Linked DNA regions of Homo sapiens: region 2 is linked to region 1. A link means that fine-mapping ties the variant in region 1 to the expression of a gene that starts in the linked region. Tissue or cell type: whole blood. Region 1 holds a variant in brackets; the other region holds the start of a gene. All regions are shown on one strand. Distances are from middle to middle.

Region 1 (8,175 bases):
AGGCAGATAGATCCCCACTCAAAAATTGGCTAGGATGTTAAGACTGATGACACCACATACACACCAAGAGGACAAGAAAAGTTTCACTACTTATGTAATTGAGGGTTTTCAGGAGAGGGGAGCAGTCATCTCCAGCAATTCCAAAATGGCTTCTGGAAGCAAAGGAAGGAGAGTGGCCTAGGTTTTCACTGAGGTTAGAAGTGGGGGGCCAAGATGAGAATTCCCACATGGAGACAGGAAATTGCATGGTTTGAATTTCCTTCATGCAGCAAAGAAGGGAGCATGCAGGCTTTTTTGCCAACTTGCTCAGAGGTAAGTTACAATGGGAAAAGGAAAGGTCAGTTTCTAGGGAGAATAAAGACTGAGGCAGGTGCTTCTCCAAGCACTGCTGCTGCTCTGGGAAAGGGAGGATCTTAGTTACTTGAAAGTTAAACTTTAAAGTGGCCCGTGCTCTGCCTGGCCTTCAGTCAGGAAGGGGTTATATGCTAGAAGGAATATAAAGTACGGCCAAAAGACAAAACCACTGTGAAAAGAGATGACATTGGGCTTTCTCAGGTGCTTGGAACCCATGCCAGCACAGAAATTGCTTGACTTCGTATAAGCAGACCAGGAAGATACTGTGGACATAGACCAGACTGGGCAACAGAGCAAGACTGTGTCAAAAAAAAAAAAAATGACAATGGGAAAGTCACAACTGTGCTGTCACTCCCTGTGTAATAATTGAGCTTTCGTTGAATGATACTGAGGGCCTGTCCAGGCAGGAGTAAGAATGTTAGATTTCCAAATATACTGTTTGGGGTGCCATCACAAGCATCAAGGAGGCAGGAGATGGTATACCATACTGGACAGTTTAGGAGACATTTTGAGTATCAAAATGCATCAGCCCCCCATCCTTCACCTTTGGACTCATGCCAGAGCAACAGAGCCAGCAGGCTTGCTAACTGTTGACAGAAGGAGCACATCACAAACTGGAAGCGGTAGAGTGTAATGAAAGCAGCACGGGTCCCAGAATTAAGAAGTCTGGTTCTGCAATTTTGTAACCAGAGCAGTTCCCACCAATCTCTTGTCCTTGGTTTCTACCTTTAAACAAAGAGAGACTTCATGATCTCTGGGGCTAGGGAAAGTAAGGCTCCACTGCCCTGCAGGATGTCAGGATGACGCCACCCCCATGGCGCTCCCTCATCAAACTCCTAGGGAACAAAGTCCCTCCTCACTGAGCCCCACAGACGAGCCCCGGTCAGCCCAAGGGCCCAGCATGGTTGGAGGGTCCAGCTGCCCTCCCTGTCTGCACGTCCACACCCCCTTACCCTGGACAGCCCTGACGACCGTTGTCTGGTGTCCCAGAGCCATGGCCGCCAGGGCTCCCTGCGAAACAAGCTCAGGCCACAGGAGCCCCGTTCGGCCCCCGCGGGACCGCGCTCCCTCCCGCCGGCGACGGTCCACGCGCGGTCACCCCAAGGCCACTCTGGCCACGGCTGCAGACCTTGAGCGTGGGAAGGGGCAGCCAGCTCCTCGGGCCCATTCGTGATCCTCGGGCGTCCTCTGGCGGCCAGAGCGGGCGTGACCTCAGGAGAATCCCCGCCGAGGCCGAACTCGCCCCGATGGCCGTTTCGCTTTGTGGACGGTCGCATTTTCCCAGCGGGCACTGCGACCGACTGTGACTGTGGTTCCGGGTATGGTGGTTGCACGCCTGTGGTCCCAGCTAGTCGGGAGGCTGAGGCGGGAGAATCGCTTGAGCCCAGGAGGTCGGGGTTGCAGTGAGCTATGACAGCGCCACTACACTCCACCCTGGGCAACAGAGCGAGACCATTTCTCAAAAAGAATAAAATGACAACCGGAAATATACGACCGTGCTGTCGCGGCTGCAGGAAATGGCGGCGTGCCCAGGCGCACTCATGACGGCTGCGTGCTCGTCAAGGTGCACAGGCGCGCACGCGTAGCGTACACTGGTGAAAGTTGCGCATTTGGACAGGCGACACGTCCTGCGCCCGCTACCCAGACTCTGGGGAAGGCAAGGGGTGCCGCTCTGTTCTACTCCTTTTCCTTATCCATCTCTTCTGTCTTTCCAAAGAGATGGTGAAAGCTCCACACACAGGATAAACATGAGGAACTGAGGAACAGTTAAAAAGATGTCTATGCTAGAGCTTCAACCCAGGCCTCCGCCCCAGCCTGCTGTCCCCTGCCTGCCCTTCCACGTCTTATGCACTTCGTTCTGGGAGCCTCCATGCATGCCCTGGGGAGCAAGCCACACATTGCCCTCGCACGGCAGTGTTCCGTCAACTGGCACCATCCAGCATGTTCAGCTTGGTTTCTTTCCTCATCCTCATAAGCCACTGACTCTGGGTTGGAACCACCATCGCAGTTAGGTCATTCTCTACAATCGCTGGCCTACTATGCCCTGACCGTATCCCAGTGAGCACAATAGGGTCAGAATTCCAGGCCACTGTTGTCCCCCAACTTCCATTTTATCCCAAAGAGACCTTTCCCACTAGTTTCCCACAGCAGAGGCGAGACCGGCTGGAAAATGGAATGAAATTTATTGAAGAGAAACGTGTACCGAAATCACTGAAAAGAAGGGAACCACAACACAGAGAGAAACTGCAAACAGCCACTACAGGACACAGGTCCTAGGATCCCTCCTCCTGGGGTTCCTGGCAAGGCGCCTCGTCTACCCCCGTCCTGCTGCCGACCCCACTGCTACCTCCCTCCTTCCCGAGGGCCCCAGGGCCCGCCTCTTGCCAGGACGTGGACTCTGGCAGTGTCCACCGGCTTCAGGGAGCCCCCTCCCAAGCCCATCTGCTGGGGCAGGGCCCTGCCCTATAGTCATCACAGACAGTCACAGGACACCAGTAAACACAGCAGGGAACAGCCCACCAGGTCGAGGAAACAGTCACAAGTAACAACAGGGGTGGAATGCCAAAGCATAAAGCTCTCCTGGGAGCCTCAGGCAGGGCAGCCCCACTCCGTCCCGGGTCCGGCTCTTCCTCCCACAGTCATGGTTACCATCGTGGTCACAGGGTGAGCATTGGCCGCGCCCTGGTTCCTCCTTCCCGCCATCTCCTGGGTCTGTGCTGGGGGCCTCCGGGGAGGAGCAGCTCAGAGAAGAACACACACAGCTCCACGAGAACAAGCAGCCACTGGCCTAGATCTACACCAGGAAAGCAGAGGTGGTGTTTAAGATGCAGGACAGACAGCAGTGAGCAGAACCTGGGCTCACAGGAAGCTCACAGCACATGCCCCGGGCCTAGTGGCGGCCGCCCGGGTGGGTGCACAACACACAACTTTGCACAGGAACGACAGCTAGCAGTGGGTGGGCGTCTGCTGGGCGCGTGGGTCACTACGGGGCCTAAACAGGTGAGGGTGGGCTTCCCAGAACAGGGGGCAGCCTGCCCCGGGGACGGCAAATGGGGCAACCCTCTTGGGAGACCCAGGCAGCTGGCACCCTTGAGAGGACCTCTTTCCCCTGTCTCTCCCAACCCAGGACAAGGGGTGGGGGACAGACATCTTCAGGTGCCCCCACCCAGGTCGCAGCTGGCCACTCAGGGCTCCCTCCTGGCCAGCCCCCCAGAGACGGCAGGGTTTGGGGCTGGGGCTGGGTGCAGCACTGGGTGCAAAGCAGGGGTGCCTCCCCCAACCCCATTTGGTATCAACGTGGTCATCTGGGTCACCGGGAAGGGCTGATGGTGGTGGCCAGGGCCCTTTGGAGGGAGGTGGGGGGCCCCGATCCTGATGTGGGATGAGGGACCAGCCCTGGCCTGGCCTCCCCACTGCCTCCAGGATGCTGCGGCCTGAGAGGAGAGGAGGCCCTGGGGCCCTCTGAGCCTATTTGCCTGGGGAGGATTTGGGCTGACCAACCTTCCTGGCCCCATCCTCATTTTCCAACTCCTCCAGTATGAACATAAGACCCCCTTGGGTCGGGGGGCTCCTCAGCCTCCTGGCCTCCTGCCTGGACAAGACCCTCTGGCTCCTTCGAGGCCTGCAGGGGCATTTTCACCTTCCCTAATGGCAGGGGTGCTCCTGGCGGCCTCTTTGGTGGCAGGAGCAGTCTCAGCAGCATCTTCCACGCCAGGGTCAGCCTGGCTGG[C/T]GTCTTCCTGGGCTGAGGAGGCCTGAGCAGCATCTCCACAGGCAGGAGCTGCCTGGGCGGCAACTGGATCTTCACTTTCCACTGTGGCCACTGGCCAGGCCACAACATGCTGGCTCCTCACTGGGGAGGCCGCCCACGCCTCCATCTCCTGGATGAGCTGAAGCAGCCCCAGGAAGTAGGGCGGCCTCCTCTCCAGTGCATCCCCCTCAGGGTATTCTGGAGTGCTTCGCCAGGGCAGGCCTGAGGCTGCACCTACCGCAGTCACAGGTGGTTGGCCAGGGCCGGGCAGACGGCCCCCTTCTCCAGGGCCATCTGCAGCAGGCCTTCCAGGCATACCAGGAAGGCAAAGGGCCCCTGCGTTCAGGTCAGGAACTTCAGCCTGGAAGTCATTCGAGGGTCCCGGTTTCCAAACGCCTGCCCCAGCACCGCTGCCCAGCAGTCCAGCAGCGCCTGGCAGTCCAGTGCCGCCAAGTTGGGATCTTCCTCTAGGAGGCCGCTCACAACGTCCAGGGCTGGGCCACCCAAGCTCTCCAGCAGCCATCTCTTCCTCTCCCTTTCCGACGCATGGTACCACAGCTGCAGCATATCCTTGGCGTGCTCCATCCAGCTCTCAAAGGACTCTTCCTCGCAGCCTGGCTGCTCCCTCCCTGAAAAGGGTCTCAGTTCCTGGTAGGCCCTGTTTTCCAGCACAGCCTGCAGGGTGCAGCGCCGAGGCTGGACCCAGGCTCTTGTTACATTTGTCCCTCTTGCCTCACCCACAGCTCCTGCCTCACCCGCAGCTCCTGCCTCACCCACAGCTCCTGCCTCACCCACAGCTCCTGCCTCACCTGCAGGTCCTGTATCACCTGCGGCTCCCTCATCTGACTCTCTTGCCTCTTCTGCAACTCTCAACTCATCTCCAGCTCCTCCCTCACCTGCACCTTCTGCCTCACTTGCAGATCCTCCCTCACCTGTGGCTTCTGCCTCACCCTTACCCACAGCTCCTGTTTCACCTATGGCTCCTGCTGCACCTGCAGCTCCTCCATCACCTGCCTCTTCTTCCTCACCTGCAGCTCCTGCCTCACCTGCAGATCTTTCCTCATTCACACCTCCTGCCTCACCTACAGATCCTGCCTCACCTGCAGCTCCTGCCTCACCTGCACCTCTGGCCACTGCTTGCCCCTGGGGCTATGCAGGGAAACTGGGTATATCCTGAAACTCAGCATCAAGGGCCTGGGGCAGGGAGATCACTTTCCAGGGTCCCCCTTTGCCTGCTATTTGGCGGGGAATCAAGCTTTGGTTTAAACCCTCAGCGAATTCCACCAAGGCTGCCCTGGCCCCGAGCTCCTTTCTGAAGACCTTGATGAGCACTCGGTACCTGCCCAGGGGCGACAGGGCAGCCCGCACGGCCTCCTGGAACTCATGTTCCTCGCAGTCGTCAGGGATATCCAGGATGAGCAGAGAGCGCTCTGCGTTCACACCCATCCTCCTGCACCAGTCCCGAAGCATCGCCAGAGCCATCGCAGAGGACTTGAGGGAGGGAGCCTGATCAGACAGGAATGTGTGCTGACTGTTGCAGTCTCTGACGCAGCCTGTGAGTGCAAAGGGGAGAGAGGGACGTTGCTGCCAGTCAGCCCACCCCCACCGCACAGCCAGAGACCAGCCACTCCCAAATGCAGGGCCTGAAGCATCTCCCCTGCCCAGTGTCACAGCCCATGCTCCCCCACCCCTACTGCTGCAGCTCAGAGTCCTTCACTGCACCCCCCACCTCCACAGCAGGAAGCGCCTCTTTCACCTGGTGAACAGCCCCTGATCACAAAACTTACAGCTGGAGCCCCTCCAACCATCATGTGCAACCCTGCAGCTGGATGTGCCCACCTCCTCTTTTTCCCAGCACTTGACCAGGAGCCCTCTCCCTAATGCCATCCTCCCTGCAACCTGGCAACCCCCTCCCACGCCTCCCACATCAGCAGCCAGGAGTCCCCTTCCCCCACAGCCAGAGCCCCTCTCTCTCCCATCGTCCCCTTCTGTAGCCAGAGGTGCCCTGCAGCCAGGAGCTCACCCCACCCAGACTCCTGCAGCAAGGAGACCCTCCTCCCCTCTCCTCAGGCTCCAGACCAGGACCCGCTGTCGCACCTACTGCCTGGGGGGACAGCGATCTGGCTCCTGCCCAGTGTGCCCTCAGCCACTCTGGGGTCCCGCTGGTGCCTGCTCACTGTCTGCAGACACTGCAACCACCCACGGGGAAATGCCACCTTCAGGCTGTGGAGCCCACTCTGGAGGCCGCCTTGAGGCCCTGGAATGGGAAGGTGGAAGATCGCGCCCCAGCAGCCCATCTGGGACTGCACAGGGCAGGGATATCTCAGGCCAGCTGTACTAAGGGCACGTGGGCTTCCAACTTCTCCCAGAAGCCTCAGATAGATGAGGGAGAAAAATCTCAGAGTCTCTGTGGGAGGCAAATAGCTAAACAGGGGGAGGCATCCGTGTTGCCCTGGGATCGGGACCTGCGCGGTAAGGGCTTGATGTGCCTCCGGGGGCAACAGGCCCAACCATCAAAATGGCCTAGTGGAAGTGTTGAGAGAGAAAGGGGATTGGAAACTGGCAGAGAGGAAGCTTATGCTTAGGGGCAGCGTCTGGAAGCTGGGAGTTGGTGGACAGCCAGGTACTAGGACTCCAGACTAGGTCCCCCAAATCACTACATTCACAGGCCTACCTCCTCATTGCAGGAATCTCCACAACAGGAAGAGGCTAGCTGTTCCTGACTCAAGAGCCTCATCATAGTTCTTAGGCTACAAAGCCAGCCTTCACCACCTAGGAAGCCATTGCATTGGAAAGAGTGTGTACGGCCTTTGGAAGCAGGCAAAGCTGGCTTCACCTAGCAGCTGGGTGGCTTTGCACAAACCACTGAACATCTCTGTTTCTCATCTGTAAATGAGCAATAAGAACATTTTTCTTGCAGGGGAGTCATGGAGCTTTACCTTCTATTAGACACACGGTAAGCCTTCAGTAAATAACCACAAGGGCACAGGAATGAAAAAGGGTGGTGTGGCCAAGAATGGTGTGGGTATTGGAGGCTGGTTGTGGCAGCCAGCTCAGTGGTCCCAGGTCTGAGCTCTGAGAAAAAGCAGGATGTGAGTGGGAACATTGGAACCATTTTCCTGAGGAATGCAAGGATTGGCCAATGTGAAAATATGACTTTCTGTTTCTGCAGGCCTTGGTCAAGAGAGGCATTTGGGAAACTCAGCCAGTCTCTGCCATGTCTAGGACTGGCTACCCATCTGGCCAGCAGCTTTGGGAGTTTCCTGAGAGTGAACCCTTGATGCATCCTTGAGCACTGCTGCACAGGCACCACTGCCCTCACGTCACTTCCCCAGCCACCAATAGGAACAACAGGAAGAGTAAGAGAGTAAGGGTACGAGGGGCAGAAGCAGACCACATGTGACAAAGTGTAGGTGAGGGACTTGCCTGTGAACTCTTGTAGTAGATTTATATATATATACACACATATATACATATACATATACACACATATACACATATATATACACATATATATACACACATATATATACATATACATATACACACATATACACATATATATACACATATATATACACACATATATATACATATACATATACACACATATACACATATATATACACATATATATACACACACATATATATACGTATATAAAAATATATATATAAATCTCTCTCTATATATATATAGAGAGAGAGAGAGAGAGTAGAGAGAGAGAGGGAGAGAGGGAGGGAGAGAGAGAGAGAGAGATGGAGTCTTGCTCTGTCACCCAGGCTGGAGTGCAGTGGCGTGATTTCGGCTCACTGCAAGCTCCGCCTCCTGGGTTCAAGCGATTCTCCTGCCTCAGCCTCCCGAGTAGCTGGGACTACAGGTGCGTGCCACCACGCCTAGCTAATTTTTTGCATTTTTAGTAGAGACAGGTTTTCACCGTGTTAGTCAGGATGGTCTCGATCTCCTGACCTCGTGATTGGCCTGCCTTGACCTCCCAAAGTGTTGGGATTGATTTTTTAATGTCCCTGGTTCTCCATTTGTAATATGATTTCAAAACTCCTTCTATCACAAGT
Region 2 (8,175 bases), 27 kb before region 1:
TCACTCTCACATATTCACATACTTTTACTAACACACATATACATTAAACACATAAACATACATTTGACCACTAACACACATTCACTCACACACAAAAACTGATGCATACTCACACTCAAATACAAACACACATTAACATATTCACACACCATCTCACACACTCACATATTCACACATTCGCTGACACATGACACACACAAACTCTCCTACACTCACTCTCACACAATCACTAGTACGCATACTCACACATATTCACCATCTCACACACACTCACAGAGATGGGCCTGGTTTTGATGCTCCAGGTGTGGAAGCCCAATAGTGATACAAGGGATCCTGGGGCCACTGGTCCAGCCTGCTGTCCCTCACCCTTCCTTAAATATGTTATTCATTTCTGAGAAGCTCAACCAGTGCCCTGAGGACCCAACCAGCCACTGCCTGGGCCTACCAGTGTCCTGTCTACTGGGACTATCCAGCCTGCTCAGCTGGGTTTCTTTGCCTGGGTCCGTGGGCCGTGAACCCTAGCTCATGACCAACATGCGCAGATAGGGCATTCTAGAATGCCTTGCAGACCGAGCCCCAAGTATACACCAGTGTTAACAAAGCCACTGTGGCCCTCACTCCACCCCAACCCCATGCCCAGCCAACCTCATCCCCAGTTTCCCACAGCAGAGGCGAGGCCGGCTGGAACACTGAATGAAGTTTATTGAAGAGAAACACGTACTGAAAACGTTGAAGAGAAGGGAATCACAACACAGAGAGAAACTGCAAACGGCCACCACAGGACACAGGTCCCACACAGGTCCCGGGCCCCCTCCTCCTGAGGTTCCTGGCAAGACGCCTCATCTGCTCCTACTCCTGCTGCAGCCCCCGCTGCCAACTCCCTCCTTCCTGAGGGCCCCGGGGTCTGCCTCTTGCCAGGAAGGTAGACTCTGGCAGTGTCCACTGGCTTTAGGGAGTCCCCTCCCAAGCCCATCTGCTGGGGCAGGGCCCTGCCCTATGGCCCGCACAGGACAGTCACAGGACACTGGAAAACACAGCAGGGAACACCCTACCAGGTTAAGGAAACTGAGTCATGAGTAACAACAGGGGTGGAACACCAAAGCACAAAGCTCCTCGGGAGCCTCAGGCAGGGCAGCCCCGCTCCGTCCTGGGTCCAGTTCTTCCTCCCACAGTCACGGTCACCATCGTGGTCACAGGGTGAGCGTCCGCCTTGCCCTGGTGCTTCCTTCCTGTCATCTCCTGGGACTGTGCTGGGGGACTCCGGGGAGGAGCTGCTCAGAGAAGAACACACACAGCTCCACAAGAACAAGCAGCCACTGGCCTAGATCTACACAGGGAAAGCAGAGGTGGTGCTCATGACGCGGGACAGCAGTGAGCAGAGCCTGGGCTCACAGGAAGCTCACAGCATGTGCCTTGGGCCCAGAGGCGGCCACCTGGGTGGGTGCATAGCACACTACTTTGCACAGGAACAACGGCTAGCGGTGGGTGGGCGTCTGCTGGACGCGTGGGTCACTACAGGGGCCTACACAGGTGAGGATGAGCTTCCTGGAACAGGGGGCAGCCTGTCCCGGGAACAGTGAGTTGGGGGACCCCTCTTGGGAGACCCAGGCATCTGGCACCCTTGAGAGGGCCTCTTTCCCCCTGTCATCTCCCAGCTCAGGGCTGGGGGAGTTTGGGACAGACGTCTTCAGGTGCCTCCACCCAGGCCATGGCTGGCTGCTTAGGGGATGCCTCCAGGCTGGATTCCCCAAGGTGGCAGGGTTGTGGCTGGCCTTGGAATTGGCATTGGCATCTGTTGAGTTGCTTTGGCCATGGCAGCCCCAGGTTCTCCTTGCTTGATCTCTCCAGGAGTCTGGTGGCCCTGTACAGAAACAAGCAGAAGAAACAAAACCCTACCAAGTCCTCCCTTTTCCTCCTCCTTTGCAACAAAGACTTCCCTTCACAGCCACCCTGGTCCAAGTCAACTGTGAGGGCACTGGCCTGCCGGGTACCCAGTACCCCTGCTGGGGGTCTTCTCATCAATCTTTGGTCTCCTTGCCTGCACAACCTCTGGCTGGCACTGGGCTCCCGGGGCCTTAGGGTCTCCTGTCCTCACTGGCACAGGGCCTCCAGGGTGCTGCCTTCCTGGGGCTCCCCTAGTGCAGTGTAGATGATCCTGAAGACGGGATGGACCCTGTGGCCTCCCCTGCAGGGCTTTACCTCTGCCCCCCAGCTCTTCCTCACCAGCCCTGGCACCTGCTGGCAGGGGCAGGCCCCAGGTAGGCTCCTCCAGGTCCCATGTGGCCTGGGGGCCAGTGGGCATGTTCAGCTCAAAGTCCACAGGGTGGGTATTTAGGGGTGGTTGGATGAGCAGGACAGAACCCCCAGCCGTACCTTCTTCAGCTTCTGCTTCTTTGGGGTCCCCATCTGAGGCCCAGGCACCCCATGTGCTGGATGCAGTGGCTCCCTGCTTTCCTCTCCAGCACCTCTTCGGGGACCTGGACCTGACCCCCACTGAGCCTGTTGCCAGGTGGTCTTGGTTGCTGAAGTCCCTTCCAGCTGGCCAAGGGTGAGAAGGCTTGGCCTTGGTCTGGCTGCCCTGTCCCTCTGCCCCACTCAACTCATCTGCTGTTTGTCTGGGCTTCTCTTTCCCCTCCTTCCAATATCTCTTTTGTCTCCTTGGCCTGTGGTAGGAAATGTTGCCCTGTTCTCCCGAGCCTACTTGGCCTTGGACTTGGGATGGCTCTTGTCCCAAGCCCAGTTCCCGTTTCCCGACTCAACTGCAGCCTGTTTCTTCTGCTTTACCAAGAGCAGGTTGGAGGGGTTGATGCACTGTACCCTGATGTGGCCGTCTTCCCCACAGCTATAGCAGAATGTGTGGCGTTTCCGTTTTCTTGAGCCTCGAGAGCCAGCCCTTGCCACACCACCCCTTCGGTGTTGGCCTCTGCCCCTCCGGCGCCGGTAGCCCTGGGAAGGCCTCGCATCAAAACTGTTGCCAGAGGCAGGGAGAGGTACTGCCCCAACCCCAGTGATCCTGGCAGGTGGCCTTGGGGCTACTTCCAGCCCCTCCAGACTCTCCCTATCTGGACCTAAAGTGGCCTCCCATTCCTCCTCCTCACGCAGGAGCTTCACCAGGGCCAGGAAACCAGGAGGCTTCCTTCGCTGTTTCATCAGCTTAAGCTTATCTCGGAGTTTGTCAGGAAGGGTGGCCCCACTTAAGACTCGTTTCAGGCGAGTCTGATTCACGTTTCTACGTGATACCACATTGTTTTCTACAGCTCTTTGGAGCAGGGGTTCCAAACGTAACACAAAGCTAGATACTTTCTCTCCTGCCTCCTGATAGGCTTTACACAACTTCACCTGGGCAATTTTATGGCTCTCCACAGGTCCGAACACCTGCTGCAAGGCAGCCAGGCACTCCTCCACAGTTATGGAAGCATTGCTGGCCCGGAGCCCACTGACCACCTGGAGAGCAGGGCCCCGTAAGCATTCCATCAGCCTCCGCCTCTTTTCCCCCTCGGGCACCTGCCACATCTGTAGCATCTCAGTGGTGTGCTCAAGCCAGGCATCAAAGGCCAGTGCACCTGGGATGGATATGGTGTTCCCAGAAAACACTCTTAGTTCTCGGTACAACATTTGTTCTAGCAGAGGCTGCACTGCTGCCCCCAGAGTCTGGGCCCAGGTCCAGAACTCTGGTGATATAGTCACTCTTGGAGCCGAACAATTGGTGTCCGACCCGAGGACTCGGTTCATATCTGACACGGTCCGCCTCTCCTCCTCTAAGAAGCGGTTCAGTCTGTTGAGAAATTCCCCATCTGAGTTACGGGGTTTTACAATCACTTCCCAGGGCCCCCCCTTTCCTGGTATTTCCCTTGGGAGCAAAGCATAGTCGATATCTTGTGCCAGCTCCAGTAGAATCGCCTGGGCGTTCTCCTCCCTCCTAAACATCCTGCCAATCACCCTGTATCTGCCCAGGTGCCTGCAAGCCTCCTGGAGTGTCTCCTCAAACTCATCCTCGCCACAGTCCTCGGGGATCCCCAGGATGAGCATGCACCTCCGGGTGTTCAGGTGTTCCCCCCGACACCAGTCCTGTAACAAGGTCAACGGCATGTCCTCGAATCTCTGCGGATACTAATTTGGGGGGAGTGATCAGGGCGTGAGGCACATATCTGGATCAACTCCTAGGGTGATCGCAGAAGGCCCAGGTCTCCACAGCCTGTGAATGCGAGCAGGGCGAGAGCGAGGTTAATGCCCACCTCTCCGCACGCCCACATCCACGCCCACCCCCACCCCCACCCCCAGCCGCCCTCCTCCCCGGGCGGCGCCTCTGCAGCCAGGCCCCGCCCCTGCCCAGCCCCCCACCCCCACCCCCCGTGGGGTCTCTGCGGGCCTCAGCCCCCTCCCCGCGCTGCCCCAGGACCCTGGACCCCTGCCCTGCAGGCTGCTTCAGTTCTGATAGGGCGGACAGGCGAGGGGCGGCGGAGTCTCCCGGGGCCCAGCGTCTCCCTCCCCAGGTGGGTCTGTTACCTTCTCCCAGGGCAAGGTCCCTTCTGGTCGGGGTCCCCAGAGGGCTCTCCGGGGGCTATGCGCGGCGGCGGCGGCGGCGGCGGACGGGGGTCGGGCACCCCTGGCTCCCAGCGCGGACGTTCGCTCAGACTGTGGCTCTCCCTCGCTCGCGCAGCACGTGGGCCAGTGCGCCGGCGCCTGCTCGCCGCGGCTCTCTGCAGTGCGGACACGGGGCGGGGGCGCGGCGGCGGTGCAGCGCGGACCCCTCCGCGTCGTCCGGGAGACCGCAGGGCCATTGGCGCGGACGGGTCACGAGGTCGGGCTCTCGCCGCCGCCCCTGGGGGCCCCAGGTCCCCGGGTGACGTCACCTGCTCCTCTCCCCTAGCCCCCCCGCCACGGGGGCCCCCGGGCCCCCGGGCACACAAGCGCCCGCCCACCCCCATCCCCACTGCGGTGGCCAAAGGTCTGTGGCGGCCAGTCCCCGTGCCTTTGGCTCTCACCACAGCGGTTCCTGGTCCCGGCTCCTGCCCCTCCCGCACGTGCCACGGAGGTGCCAGCGGGGCGAGGGGTCTGCACCCCGGCGTGCCCACCAGAGGGCCAGGGAGTGGTCTGAGGTGCGCCAGGCAGCTCTGCATTATGGCCAGGGTCAGGGAGCCGGGTTCTGGGGCCTGTTCACCTGCTCTTGTCCTCCCCCTCCCCGTCCAGGACTGGTCCTCTGGCTGGCGAGGCCAGGGGCACCTGGTGCGGGTGCCATTCCGTGCAGGAGATGCCCCAGGCACTCATGCAGGTCACGCACACCACCCCAAGGAGGGTCAGCCATCTCCCCGCTGTCCATCCCGCTGCTGGGACCTGAGGCCCTCCGGCCAAAGCGCTTCGCTGCCCAGGTGCCAGTGGACAGGTTTACCGGGACCTTTCCGGTTTTGTGCGCTGCAAATCTAGTGACTTGGGAAACCACTTCCAGGACTTGGAGCCCAATCCCTTGGGCCTGCCCTTCCTTGGCAGCCGTGCGCCGTGGGTTCTATTGTATCCGTTTGATCCCAGGGCAGCAGCCAAATGAAGAAGGGAGTGACTGTCCCTCAGGCAGTGGGCCCAGGTGTTCTGTGGGTCCTGCCTGCTCTGCCAGCCGCATGCTCAACTCCTATTCACACAGCTTCAGCTCCTCTCCAAACACAACGAAAAGGGGCTTGTGGTTGATTTTCAGGCCAGGTTCACCCATCCAGCCAAGTCTGGGAGGCCACCTTGCAGTGAGTGGGGCACAAAACTGTCCACTGACTTCCTGCCCCACCCTGAGTTCTGCTCGTCAGCCTGGCACTTGTCAGGGACCAAGAAGAAATGGCCCCAAGGGCTTTTTCCTGGTCAGACAGAATTCCTGAAACATCTTTACAGGAGTTATTTCATTTGCTCCTCACCAGAACTCTGAAGCAGGTATTAACATTATCCTGATTTGACTCATGAGGCTCAGAGAGATTAAGAGACATTTTCAAGGTCACACACCGTATTGAAGGTAGAATTGAGACTGGATTCTAAATTAGTGCCCATCAGTCTTTGGGTAGAATTGGGACTATTTCTCCCCTGGTTGCTTCATGCCTATTAGAATTTATTTCTCTCATTTTTGTCCATTCACAGTCCCTTGCTTTGTCACTCCAAGGGCTCAACCAGCTTCAAACTGAACCTTCATCTGCCCAACTTGCAGGGGTGGAAACAGAGGTTCAGAGAAGGGACACTACTGGCCCAAGGTCACACAGTGAGTAAATGACAAAGCTTGAGATGTCAAGGGGAGATGCCAAGTATTCATGCCAAGGCAGAGGGGCGTGTCTGGAATGTCTCCGGAAAGAAGCCTGTGAAGTTCCCAGACAGACGCAGTGATCTGTGGATGTTCTGGGCATTGGGAAAAAAGGATTTGGAAACACTGGTATCAAGACAATAGATGTGAATATGTCCAATTTGAAAAGTTTTAGAACTCCTTTATATTGGAGTTAACCTTTGCCCTTGAAACCAGTGGAAATGTCTTAATTACTTTTGCTTCCCCATCTCCTTGCATGGTAGATAACACAGCAGCACCAAAGTTGGGGAACTGATGGATAAACATTATTACTTGTAAAGTGAAAAACATAATACAGCATGAAGGAAGCAACCTCCACCGGGGTGGCCTTGCCCTGGCTTAGACCAGTAGTGACTATCGGGGTCACAAAAGGGGCAGATTCATGGGCCCCACCTCTGCAATCTGATCTGCTGAGTCTGAAACAGGCCTGGGAATTTTTTAAAGAGTTTCTGGTAATTAAATACTTTATAAAATACATTCTGCAATATTTAACATACAAAACGTACTTAAAAAGTACATCCAGTACTCCTGAATGTAGTAACTGGATGAAGACATAAAACACTGCCAGTGAGGGTAAGCGCCTGCAGATTCCTTCCCTGTTGTCTCCCACTCTTGTCCTCCATGTGCATTTCTTCGTGCTTTTTCTGCAAATGACTATATCCCTAAAAAATTGTCTTTGTCTCTTTTACACTTGGCAGAAATGATATCATACTATTCATAGTCATCACTGTATTAACTAATTATTGTTTGTGAGAATCACCATTTTGATATAAGCAAATTTTATTCCTCAATTTTCACTTCTGTATAGTATTCCATTGTGTGTGTGTGTGTACCAAAATTTATCAATTTTCCCATTGACAGATATTTAAGTTGTTTCCCATTTTTACTATCAGAAACAATGCTGCTTTAAATATTCTTGGAGAGTTCCTCTAAGTTATGTACCTAGCCATGGCATTGCTGAATCAAAGACTATCTTTAGTATTCAGAGACATTGCCAAATTGTCTTCTGGGTTGCTGTACAAATTTATGTTTCCATCAAGCTCCATATCATCACTAACATTTCATATTGTGTGACTTAAATGTTGTTAATCCTGAGGAATGTCAATTGTTATTATGCTTTTATGTAGAATTTCTATGATTATGAATTAGATTTAATACCTTGGTTGGGGGGGCATTTTTTATTCCTCTTGATTGAAATTCCTATTTTTGTCTCAATTCTCAACTGGGGTGCTTCTCTTTTTTAATTCTTTCATAGGAGTTATTTATTTACTTTGGATATTTCTTCCCATTAAGTTACTATTCCTGCACAACCAGCTACCCAAAACATACTGGCTTAAAACAACCATTTTATTCTGCTCACAATTTTGTAAGTGAGAAATTGAGAGAAGGTTTAGCTGGGCAGTTCACTCATGGGATCTCTCATGTGGTTGCATTGAGATATGAGTTGAGAATCAAGTCTAAAGACTCAACAGGGCTGGGCACCCAAGATGGTTCATTCATATGGCTGGCATTGAGTCACACTTTTGGTACTTGCAGCCCAAAGCACGCTAATTTTTATAGAAGCTCAGATAACAATAGCTCCTCTGAATCATCATTATTGGACCAATTAAGTTTTTTATTTGGACTTTAAGAAATTTCTCTGGGAAAATACACAAATGGACAGAAATTACACCTCTTAATTTAAGACTGTTATGGGTTGAATTATGTCTCCCCATACCTCAATTCATATGGTGAAGTCCTAATCCTTAGCACCTCAGAATGTGACCTTATTTGAAAATAGGGTCATTGTAGATGTACTTAGTTAACATGAAATCAAGCTGGAGTGGTGTGGGCCCCTAATCCAATGTGACAAGTGTCCTTATAGCAAG

What was found. PIP is the estimated chance that this variant, and not a neighbour inherited with it, causes the effect.
Region 2: it holds the start of PNMA3, and the variant in region 1 is fine-mapped to the expression of PNMA3 in whole blood (TOPMed, PIP above 0.99).

The regions. Positions count from the first base shown.
Region 1 is chrX:153,026,194-153,034,368 of GRCh38, reverse strand. It overlaps the pseudogene LOC112268308. Among named protein-coding and RNA genes, the nearest start is that of PNMA3, 26 kb to the left of the region's middle. The variant C/T (reference allele first, on the strand shown) is at 4,085.
Region 2 is chrX:153,052,970-153,061,144 of GRCh38, reverse strand. It overlaps PNMA3 (PNMA family member 3), which reads right to left and starts at 4,675. Exons shown (of 2, transcript NM_013364.6): 1 at 4,507-4,675; 2 at 683-4,195. The coding sequence starts at 4,089. The coding sequence ends at 2,698.